2 separate regions of the Homo sapiens genome follow, and region 2 is linked to region 1. The links come from fine-mapping of genetic effects on gene expression. Tissue or cell type: tibial nerve. Region 1 holds a variant in brackets; the other region holds the start of a gene. All regions are shown on one strand. Distances are from middle to middle.

Region 1 (5,304 bases):
TACGTGCATTCTGCACCGGACTGTCTGCACCCCCGCCAGGTACCCCCTCCCACTCTCACCCTGCCCAGCACTGGAGCCCATCCTCATACCCCAGTCAATTCAGGGCAGTTGTCCCTATGTCTCTGGATTGAAGTGCTGCATATTTTAACAAAGAAAAGATAACTAGGCTGCAGGGTGGAATTCTATGCCCAAAGCGTCATTGTGTTTCTCCTCAAGTCATTCCAGGAGTACTTTCTGGATAAGACCGATTCTTAGGGAGTGTTGACTATTGGAAACAGTTGGGTAAAGCTCATAGGAAGAATATTCCGGATACTTGCTGCCACTTAAGAGTAGGTATGGCGGAGAGGATGGGTCCCCCAAATGTGTGGGATTCTGGAAAGTGCCTGCAGGGAGGTTGTCCTGCTCCTTGGACATGGAAGGTAGGCCAGCACCCCTGCCCCCTGGGGTCACCAGTTTTACATTGCTAGCAGTTAAGCCCCAGGATGATTCAGAAGCCCCACTGAGATCTTCTTGGCTTTCTGTCCTGTGCTTCACCCCAGCTCTCTATCCATGTTCAGGCAAAGCCCAGAGCTGACTGCTTAGAAAAATATTTAATTGAGATTCCTCCTACAGTGCCTATTTCTGTCTCGATAAGGCCTTGGCATGCCATGGGTGGCTAAATATATTGGCTGTTTCCTCTCCAATGCCAACCTAGTTTTTTAAATGTTCCCAAGTGTGTCTGCCCAGCTTTCCCCTGAGAGAGAATTTACAGCATTAGCCCTCTGTGACCTAGAAGAAAAAACAAAACAAAACATAGAAGATGTTAACTTACTTACAGAAGAGAAACCAGGAAATTATACATTTGTGCAGAAGTGTCTTCATTCATGCATTCATTCATTCATTCATTCAGGTCTCTCAAACTCCTCCTGAGTTACTGGCACTGTGCTTAAACATGGGCCACATAGATTGATGGAATTAGACATGATCCCTGTCCTCAAGGTGTTCATAGTCTAGATCTACCTGCAGTACTAAGTGTTAAGTATGGAAGATGCACAAAACAGAGCTGCGAGAAGGGTCTGCAGTGGCCTAGAGGAGGATACTCAGGGAATATTTTCCTAAATAGCAGCATCTCTACCTGTTCTAGTACTTAGGAATTGAGAGAATGGGGAAAGCTAAATAAAGAAATAGCAAGAATATAAAGGCAGATGCCATTTATGAGCATGTTACGTTAGTTTGGGGGCAACAGCTTGGGCATTTTTCCTAGTAGAATTCTTCTGTTGGATGTGATATATGATTCTAAAGTCTTAAGTGCAATTAGTTTTTCTTCTGTATGCTTTTTTTTAAAAATAAAATTTACTAGTGCAGACAAGTGTTTCATAAACATTTTTAGAGTCATAGAACTCTTTTTGCAAACAAAACATCCCAATATTTAAGACCAATAACATCAGAGATGCTGTGGTTGAGGCAGGGGTGGGAGATGCGGAACCAGTTCTGGCCTCCTCCAATCTCTGACCAAGACACCCCAGTGGGATTCCAGGGCTCACTGAGACTGCAGTTGAAACCTACATGTTGAGATGGTGCTTCACACTTCCCAGGCTTTAAGCTAGCACCTCAGTGATCTCTCTTCACCTCCCTTTGGGCCTGTGACTGTTTCCTGCCTCCAGGAGGAGTCTGCAGTTGCTGCTTGATAGCTCTGATGGAGGCTTGTAGCAGGTGGTCTTGGAATGCTTGGGATCACCAAGCCTTGGGAGTAGTCAAGTCGTGGTTCCTTTGATGGAAAAAAGTGGGCTATCATCTGAAAGCAGGAGTGTTGGCAGCCAAGAGGATGAGCACAGTCCGGTGGCACATTACAAATGACTCTGGCCCCATTACTCATTAGGTCCCCCTGGAAGATGTTCTAGGGTGAACAGTCCTCATTTTCCCATCTCCATGGCTGGATAACCTCTCAGTTCATAGATCCCTGCAGACACTTCCTTTCAACATGCCAAGGCCTTTAACATCTCAAATGGGCTTTACTCTTTTCAATGTCAAGTAAGGCAAAGCAGCGAATGGTCTTTCCATTTTATAGGTGGGGAAACTGAGGCCTAGTGTAGTTGGCTCTTTCACAAAAGAATACCGAGACTCACTGTTCAGACTGTGATTGTTCTCTCACACTTTCTCATACTCCTGAGAAGTTCTTTCTGTTCTCCAGCTTTTATCCATTTCATTGATGTAAACCATTTCCTCTGTGTTTGTTTCTTCAAATTGTCCAGAAAAATGTGAAGTTGGACTTCTTTCCCTTCTTAACATTGCATAGAAGGCAGTGGAAGGCAGGGGGTCTGAATGAATGACCCAC[A/G]GGAGTTGTGGTGGATTACCATCTCTGTTAAAAACAATTCTGCTTTGGTAATCTTGGCAGACGGCTGAACAGTGGACATGATGTTCTTAGAGGGAGGGTGATTTCAGTCCTGGGGGTTCTGTAATTCCCCATATCTTAACATAGGGGTTGGACACAAGGCTTTCCTTTGGGTCTGGGCTCAGCCTTTTCTAGCAGCTTTGCCACTGGTCTGGAACCTTTTAGGGCATTCCAAACCCCCACACCTCTCCCCCCGCCATGGGGCTGGCCTGCAGTCAAGCATCTTCACACTCTGCCGCTTCCATCTGGAACTCCCTTTCTCGATTCCTGATGTTGGCTGCCTCGGGGCCTGCTTGCTATTCTGGTGCCCAGAAGCCAACACAACTTTGCCAGCCAAAGCCATGCTGAACTGCATCAGCAGAGAAGGGTGGGCTTCCTTGGAGTCAGAATGCATGCGCAGGAGGACCCATCCATGGTACCTATGACGATTTATCAAAGAGTTCCTTAAAGAAAGTGAAGAGACGAATCACAGAAGATATTTGGAATATACATAATCCAAGAACAGTATTCTTAAGAGCATCTAAAGAATATCTCCAAGTTACCTTTGGGCCCAATAATTTTAATATTCTCTAAGGTATTGACTCCATCTAAGACATGAGACTTTGCCTGGTTTGGAGTCAGATCCTTTCTAGAAACTCTTATTCTCCTTCAAAAAAGGTGGGAGAACCTGAACACAACATTCGGGAACCACTAACTGATGGCTTCAGGAATCCAACTAACACTCAGGAAACACAGGGGTCGAACACACCTCTGGCTTCCTCGGGACAGCTTGCATAATCTCCTCCTTCCAGGCACACCTAGCTATGAATTCAGCTGAGTTTTTAAGAAACATGAATCTGGAATACAGTGAGAGGAGTGGGTATAATGGAATAGAAGGGGAAGCAGGCCCTCCCGCTAAGGGGTACACACTCTCCAGAGGACACACACACGCAGCGCTCTTGTTCAGGCATCTCACATAAACTTGTCCAAAATGGACCAAATGGCTCTTTCTTCTTCAGGCAACTCCCTTTTCTAACTTCTGGGCCTCCAGTGTTGTTGGCATATTTTGCTTGCTTTCCTGACGCAAACCAAGAGGCATCTGTGATTCCTCTCCCCTTTTATCCGCTGCATCTGAGCAGTGGGTGGACTCCACCACCCTCCCTCTTTTGTGGATGCCCCTCCCACTGGCTCCTCCTTCTCCCACTGGTTGCCTCTTGTCTGGGGAGCGGGGAGGCCTTTAGCATTCCATTCCATAAAGCTCTGATCTTACGGTGTCAAAGCTGACAATGAATACCATTTCAAATGAAATCATGGCCACCTGCCTCTGCCTGGCTTTCCAGTGTCCCCACGCCATGACGCTGGCCCTTCCCTGTCACATCATCCCCACCTTTTAGGGTCAGTCTTTTCTGATCTTCCTATGCTCCCACAAGCATGGGAATCTATTTCTCCCTCCACACCTGAGCCTGAAGTGCCAGCCTCCCCACCCTTCACGGCCATCTCTGTGCAGCCTTCCTGATAGGCTTCCCAGAAGCCCTGCTGATAGGGGCTATCTCCTTTATGCCCTGACTGTTTCCGTGTTGACTATTTCCAACCTAGCACCAATTCTGCAGTTTATTATATACTGCTAAATGTTATCTTTCCACAGGTTGTGATCTTTTTGATGGTAAGGGTCTGGTAATGCCTGTTTGCAGCCTCTCTTAACTGCACACAATGCAAGGATGTGCGTATGGGAGAAATTAACATTTGTTGAGAGCTTTAAGACTTTATCTCATTGAATTCTTTCAACCCTAAGAGTTGGATATTTTTTGTCTCTATTTTATAGATGAGGAAACTGAAGCTTGGAGAAATAGTTTTGCATACACAGCCACTAAGTCGCTGAGTTAGGATTTGAAAGTAGGGCTGCTTATGGTGAAGCATCTTTCACTATTCCATGCCTCTATTCCAAAGTGGGGTGTAGGCTGCTCATAAATTGCATTGAATCAGAAAAAAAATTAGACACACAAAGCTGATATATGTTTAATATCATTGCTAGCACTGAACTCATACATGTTTTTTTATATCACAACCTGAAAGCTTAAATCTCAGACCGATCTACTCTAACACTCTTTTTTCTTTTTTAAAGAAGCTAAGAGCAAGTTTTAAGATTGATGTCTCTTTGAAAATGTCTTATTTATTTTTCTGCAAGCGTGGTTCATCTAAAAATTTTGCTTGGTAGGAAGAGGCCTAGGGGTGTGTGTGTTGTCTTTGAACTGGGTGACCAGGGAGGAGGTTGTGATAGCTGGTAATATGTCTCTTTCAAGGCTGGTGCTGCAGCAGAAAATGTTCCTGCCCATACATAGGATTAGATTGTAATCAAAGGAACAGGGTCATGAAACAAACTTTTGAAATGGAACTCAGATGTTGTAAATACATATACCTTGGCCAGGCTCCCAGACGTGAGAACCTCCCCCATGATCCCAAAGAAAAATATTCCATTGTATTAGATTACATTAGACGAGAGAGAAATAGAACACTCAAGCATGGATGAGGAGAATATATAAAGGAAAAAGGAAATAAAGAGGAATAGGCCAGGCACCGTGGCTCACACCTATAATCCCAGCACTTTGGGAGGCCGAGGTGGGAGAATCACATGAGCCCAGAAGTTCAAGACCAGCCTGGGCAACATGGTAAACCCCATCTCTACCAAAAATACAAAAAATTAGCCAGGCGTGGTGTGCAAAAACATAGCACTTAAGTTTCACAGGGGCAGGGCTTTTGTTTGTTTTTCTCTTTATTGCAAGTGTCTATAACAGTCCTAGATACATAGTTGGTATTCTATAAATATTTGTTAAAAGATTGTAAACCAGGAACATTGGGAGGGTGAATTCTGCTTGCTGGTGGAGAAGGGTGAGGGACACAGGTCCTTGCTGCCTGCAGGGGCATGTTCGGGCCAGTCTGAGTAGTCTGTGGTTCCA
Region 2 (4,000 bases), 84 kb after region 1:
ACTCTGTAGGAGCTCAGTGGGTGGGACCAACAGAAACACGTTACAAAGCAGGCAGGAGACACCAGGGAGAATGAAGGTGGAATGACCATGATCCTTCCTGTGTCTTATTTTTATTTTTTTTAGATTGGCACTGTACATAGTGCTTTTTACTTCTTTTTTTTTTTTTTTTCAGATCGGCACCCTACATAGTGCTAACGATTTTTTTTTTTTTTTACTTTTTTTTCAGATCGGCACTCTACATAGTGCTAATGATTTCCAGAAGTCCAGCTCTGTCCATCTCTTCCTCTGCTCAAACATGGATGCTGTATCCTTACTGCCCAGCATATTAAGCCAAAGCGCCACAGTCAACTGGATTTCCTGCCTCCCCTGCTGCTCTCTGCAAGCATCCTGCACTCTGGCTGAAGTGGACTTTCTGATCCCCAAACTCATTTTCCCATTTCTCTCTCTCTCTCTCTCTCTCTCTCTCTCTCTCTCTCTCTCTGTGTGTGTGTGTGTGTGTGTGTGTGTGTGTTTTGAGACTGATTCTTACTCTGTCACCCAGGCTGGAGTGCAGTGGTGCGATCTTGGCTCACTGCAACTTCCACCTCCTGGGTTCAAGCGATTCTCCTGCCTCAGCCTCCCAAGTTGCTGGGACTACAGGCGTGCATCACCGTGCCTGGCTATTTTTTGTATTTTTAGTAGAGATGGGATTTCACCATGTTGGCCACGGTTGGCCAGGCTGGTCTTGAACTCCTGATCTCAGGTGATCCACCTGCCTCGGCCTCCCAAAGTGCTGGAATTACAGGTGTGAGCCACCGCGCCCGGCCCCATTTCTGTGTTTTTGCTTCAGGTGGTCCCTCTGCCTGTGCCCTTGCTAACCGCCCATTTCCTCTGGTAGAATTACAAGCTTCAATTTCAGCTCCGACTCACCCAAGAAACTCCCCTTTCCTCAACCACCACATCACCTCTCTACCAAAATATTTCTTTTCTTCAAAGCCTCTGATAAACATTTATTTATTTATTTTTTATCTTACCAAAGTCTTTCCCGATAACTCTTCCCAGCTTGGCGTCTTAAGACCAGGTACTTGCCTTCCTGGAGGCATCTAGGTCACCTTCAGAGCCAGGTGGCCATTGGGTTAACTAGCTGTTGAACTGAATCAAACAGGCTCTGAGCCTTGAAGTCAGAAAGAGCCAGAGTGGAGGGGTCTGGGGGGAAGAGGGGCGCTGAGGTATAGGGAGATGAAACCTGCGGTGGAGGCAGCTTAATGGTCCACCTGTCACCCAAGGAATCTCTCTGACAGGGGTCTTTGTTAGGGTCACACCCCAGGAGATGGTTGATTATGGCTGAGTCCAGCCTGGAATGATGGGGGTTGGGGGCAGCTTGGGTAGATGACTCAGTAAATCAAACAGAACAATGAAAGGAGGTCATGCTTGTCCATCTGCATTATTGAAGACAGCCATAAATGGCCTTACCCCAGAGCGGGTCTGTCACACCTGGAGAGCTGATCTGACCTCTCCAAGACCCCTGCAACTGAGTGTTCTGGGATCTGTCCTGCAACAAGTGCCTCGAGATTTGTAGGTGGGGGCCCAGGGTGCTAAGGGATTATTTTAGCGGGCGGAGAAGGGAGGGGGTCTGCAGACGAAGGGGGCAGGTTTTGCGGGGCACTTAGGGTTCTCATAGGTTGTAGTCACGAGCTCCCAGGTTTGGAAAACTGCAATAGTCACTAAGACCATTCGGGGCTGTTTGGGTCTAGCTTGGTCTAGACGGGTCTGAAACTCCGCAGGACCCACCCAACAAGAAGTCATTGTTCCAAGCCACGTGTCAGTGGTGGGTGATACCCCAGGATGGAAGGAGTTGGTATGAGCCGACTGAAATCTACTTGAAGGTCAAAACGGAGCCTTATGTCTTTTGTGTTCCCCAGCGGTTAGCCCAGTGCCGGCCACAGGGGAAGCGCGCAAACGAAGTCCTCGCGAACTGAACTGAGAGCAGACAAAAGCACGCGCTCTTCTCCACCGCCACGCCGGTCCTACCCAAACCCGCGAGTTATCCGTATTCTCCTTCAGGAGTCATAGTCAGGCCAGAAGAGTGCGGAGGGACGGGGCCCGGGAAGAGCAGGGAACCCCCAGAGCCCGCAGCCAACGCGGAGGTGGGCGAGCGGGCGTGCGCGCACTCACTTGCCGGCGCGAGGGAGTGTCGGGGGGGAAGGGAGTGGTCTCCAAAAGGGGGAGGGGAGAAGGCAGGGGGCGGGGAGAAGCCGGCCCTTTAGGACCCGGCTGCGGCGGCGAGGGAGGAGGAAGAAGCGGAGGAGGCGGCTCCCGCGCTCGCAGGGCCGTGCCACCTGCCCGCCCGCCCGCTCGCTCGCTCGCCCGCCGCGCCGCGCTGCCGACCGCCAGCATGCTGCCGAGAGTGGGCTGCCCCGCGCTGCCGCTGCCGCCGCCGCCGCTGCTGCCGCTGCTGCTGCTGCTACTGGGCGCGAGTGGCGGCGGCGGCGGGGCGCGCGCGGAGGTGCTGTTCCGCTGCCCGCCCTGCACACCCGAGCGCCTGGCCGCCTGCGGGCCCCCGCCGGTTGCGCCGCCCGCCGCGGTGGCCGCAGTGGCCGGAGGCGCCCGCATGCCATGCGCGGAGCTCGTCCGGGAGCCGGGCTGCGGCTGCTGCTCGGTGTGCGCCCGGCTGGAGGGCGAGGCGTGCGGCGTCTACACCCCGCGCTGCGGCCAGGGGCTGCGCTGCTATCCCCACCCGGGCTCCGAGCTGCCCCTGCAGGCGCTGGTCATGGGCGAGGGCACTTGTGAGAAGCGCCGGGACGCCGAGTATGGCGCCAGCCCGGAGCAGGTTGCAGGTAACGCGGTCTGGAACAAGTAGTTGGGAGAAACTTGGAGGGCAGCGGAGAAGCCCGACGGGCGGCTGGACCTTACGGACGGTTTTAGGGGCGGCAGAGCCGAGACCTTGGACCAAATCAAGGGGGACTGTTGCTAGCGGGACGCGGAAGTCAGGCCCGGGGAGGGGAACTGGAGTTAGAGCAAGTGGAAGAGCCCTGGCGACTCATTTGGTGGGGATGAATGGGGAGAGGAAAGGCATCCCTGCTGCCATAGTTTTACCCGCGTGGAACGGACCCAGACTTCTATTCTGGAGGAGGGATTTGCTGAGAAGGGGGCCGGTGGTCAGATCCATGGGAGTAGGAACTCGAATCTTATTTGGGGCACTGCTTGAGGACCCAAGGGTCCTGGTGGGATCGCTGCTGGGAGGCGGAGGCTGCGGGGTGCCAGTGACACCAGGAACCTTGGAAGAGGAGAGGGAGCTAGGAGGAGGCACCGGCGTCCCAAGGGGCCCTTCCTTCTACTGGGGTTGTGAGTTGGAAAGAAAGGACTTGGTACTTTGTAGGATGAGTCGCTTAGGAGAAAAATGAAAACCACCACTACTATTTCTCCATAGGGAACGAGCAGGGCTCTTGCTACCACGTTGAATGGAAAAATAAAAGGGAGGCATTTGGTAGGCGAGGGGTCTCCTAGCAGCTGAATCAATGTAACTTAAGCCCGATCGCCGGCTGCATTCCCTGGACGGGGGCAGCCAGGCTGTGCGGTTTCGCATCTGGGCCCCAGATCGAAAGGCAGGAGAGATGCGTTGCCACCCCCCACCCCCGCCCCTATCTTAAATTGAGGGACCCTTTCCTGTAGGATAGAATGAGGACCCGATATTCTTTGTTCAGGGGCCCTCATCCCTCCCAAAAAGTTATTTGAGGGACACAACCAGGCTCTAAGGAGGTTACTTTTTTTTTTTTTTAATTACGAAAGCCTCCTGCCCCAGTGGTCGGGAGGAAGCTGTAATTATTTTCTTTCCTCTTGGAGACAGTGGTGAAATGTGTCCACTGCCTGCTGCTGTTGTTGAAAAAGCAAGTGAGTCTTAAGTTTCTCAAACTTAAAAAGAAAAAGTGAAAAGAAGAATGCTTGCTTTTTAGCTTCTGAGGTCTTCGTAAGCCCCCCACCCCATGCACCAACCCGCCTCCCTTCTCCTGGTCGGCTATTG

What was found. PIP is the estimated chance that this variant, and not a neighbour inherited with it, causes the effect.
Region 2: it holds the start of IGFBP2, and the variant in region 1 is fine-mapped to the expression of IGFBP2 in tibial nerve (GTEx, PIP 0.92).

Annotation. Positions count from the first base shown.
Region 1 is chr2:216,546,631-216,551,934 of GRCh38, forward strand. No RefSeq gene overlaps it. Among named protein-coding and RNA genes, the nearest start is that of RPL37A, 50 kb to the left of the region's middle. The variant A/G (reference allele first, on the strand shown) is at 2,315.
Region 2 is chr2:216,631,150-216,635,149 of GRCh38, forward strand. IGFBP2 (insulin like growth factor binding protein 2) reads left to right here and starts at 2,271. Exons shown (of 4, transcript NM_000597.3): 1 at 2,271-2,816. The coding sequence starts at 2,375.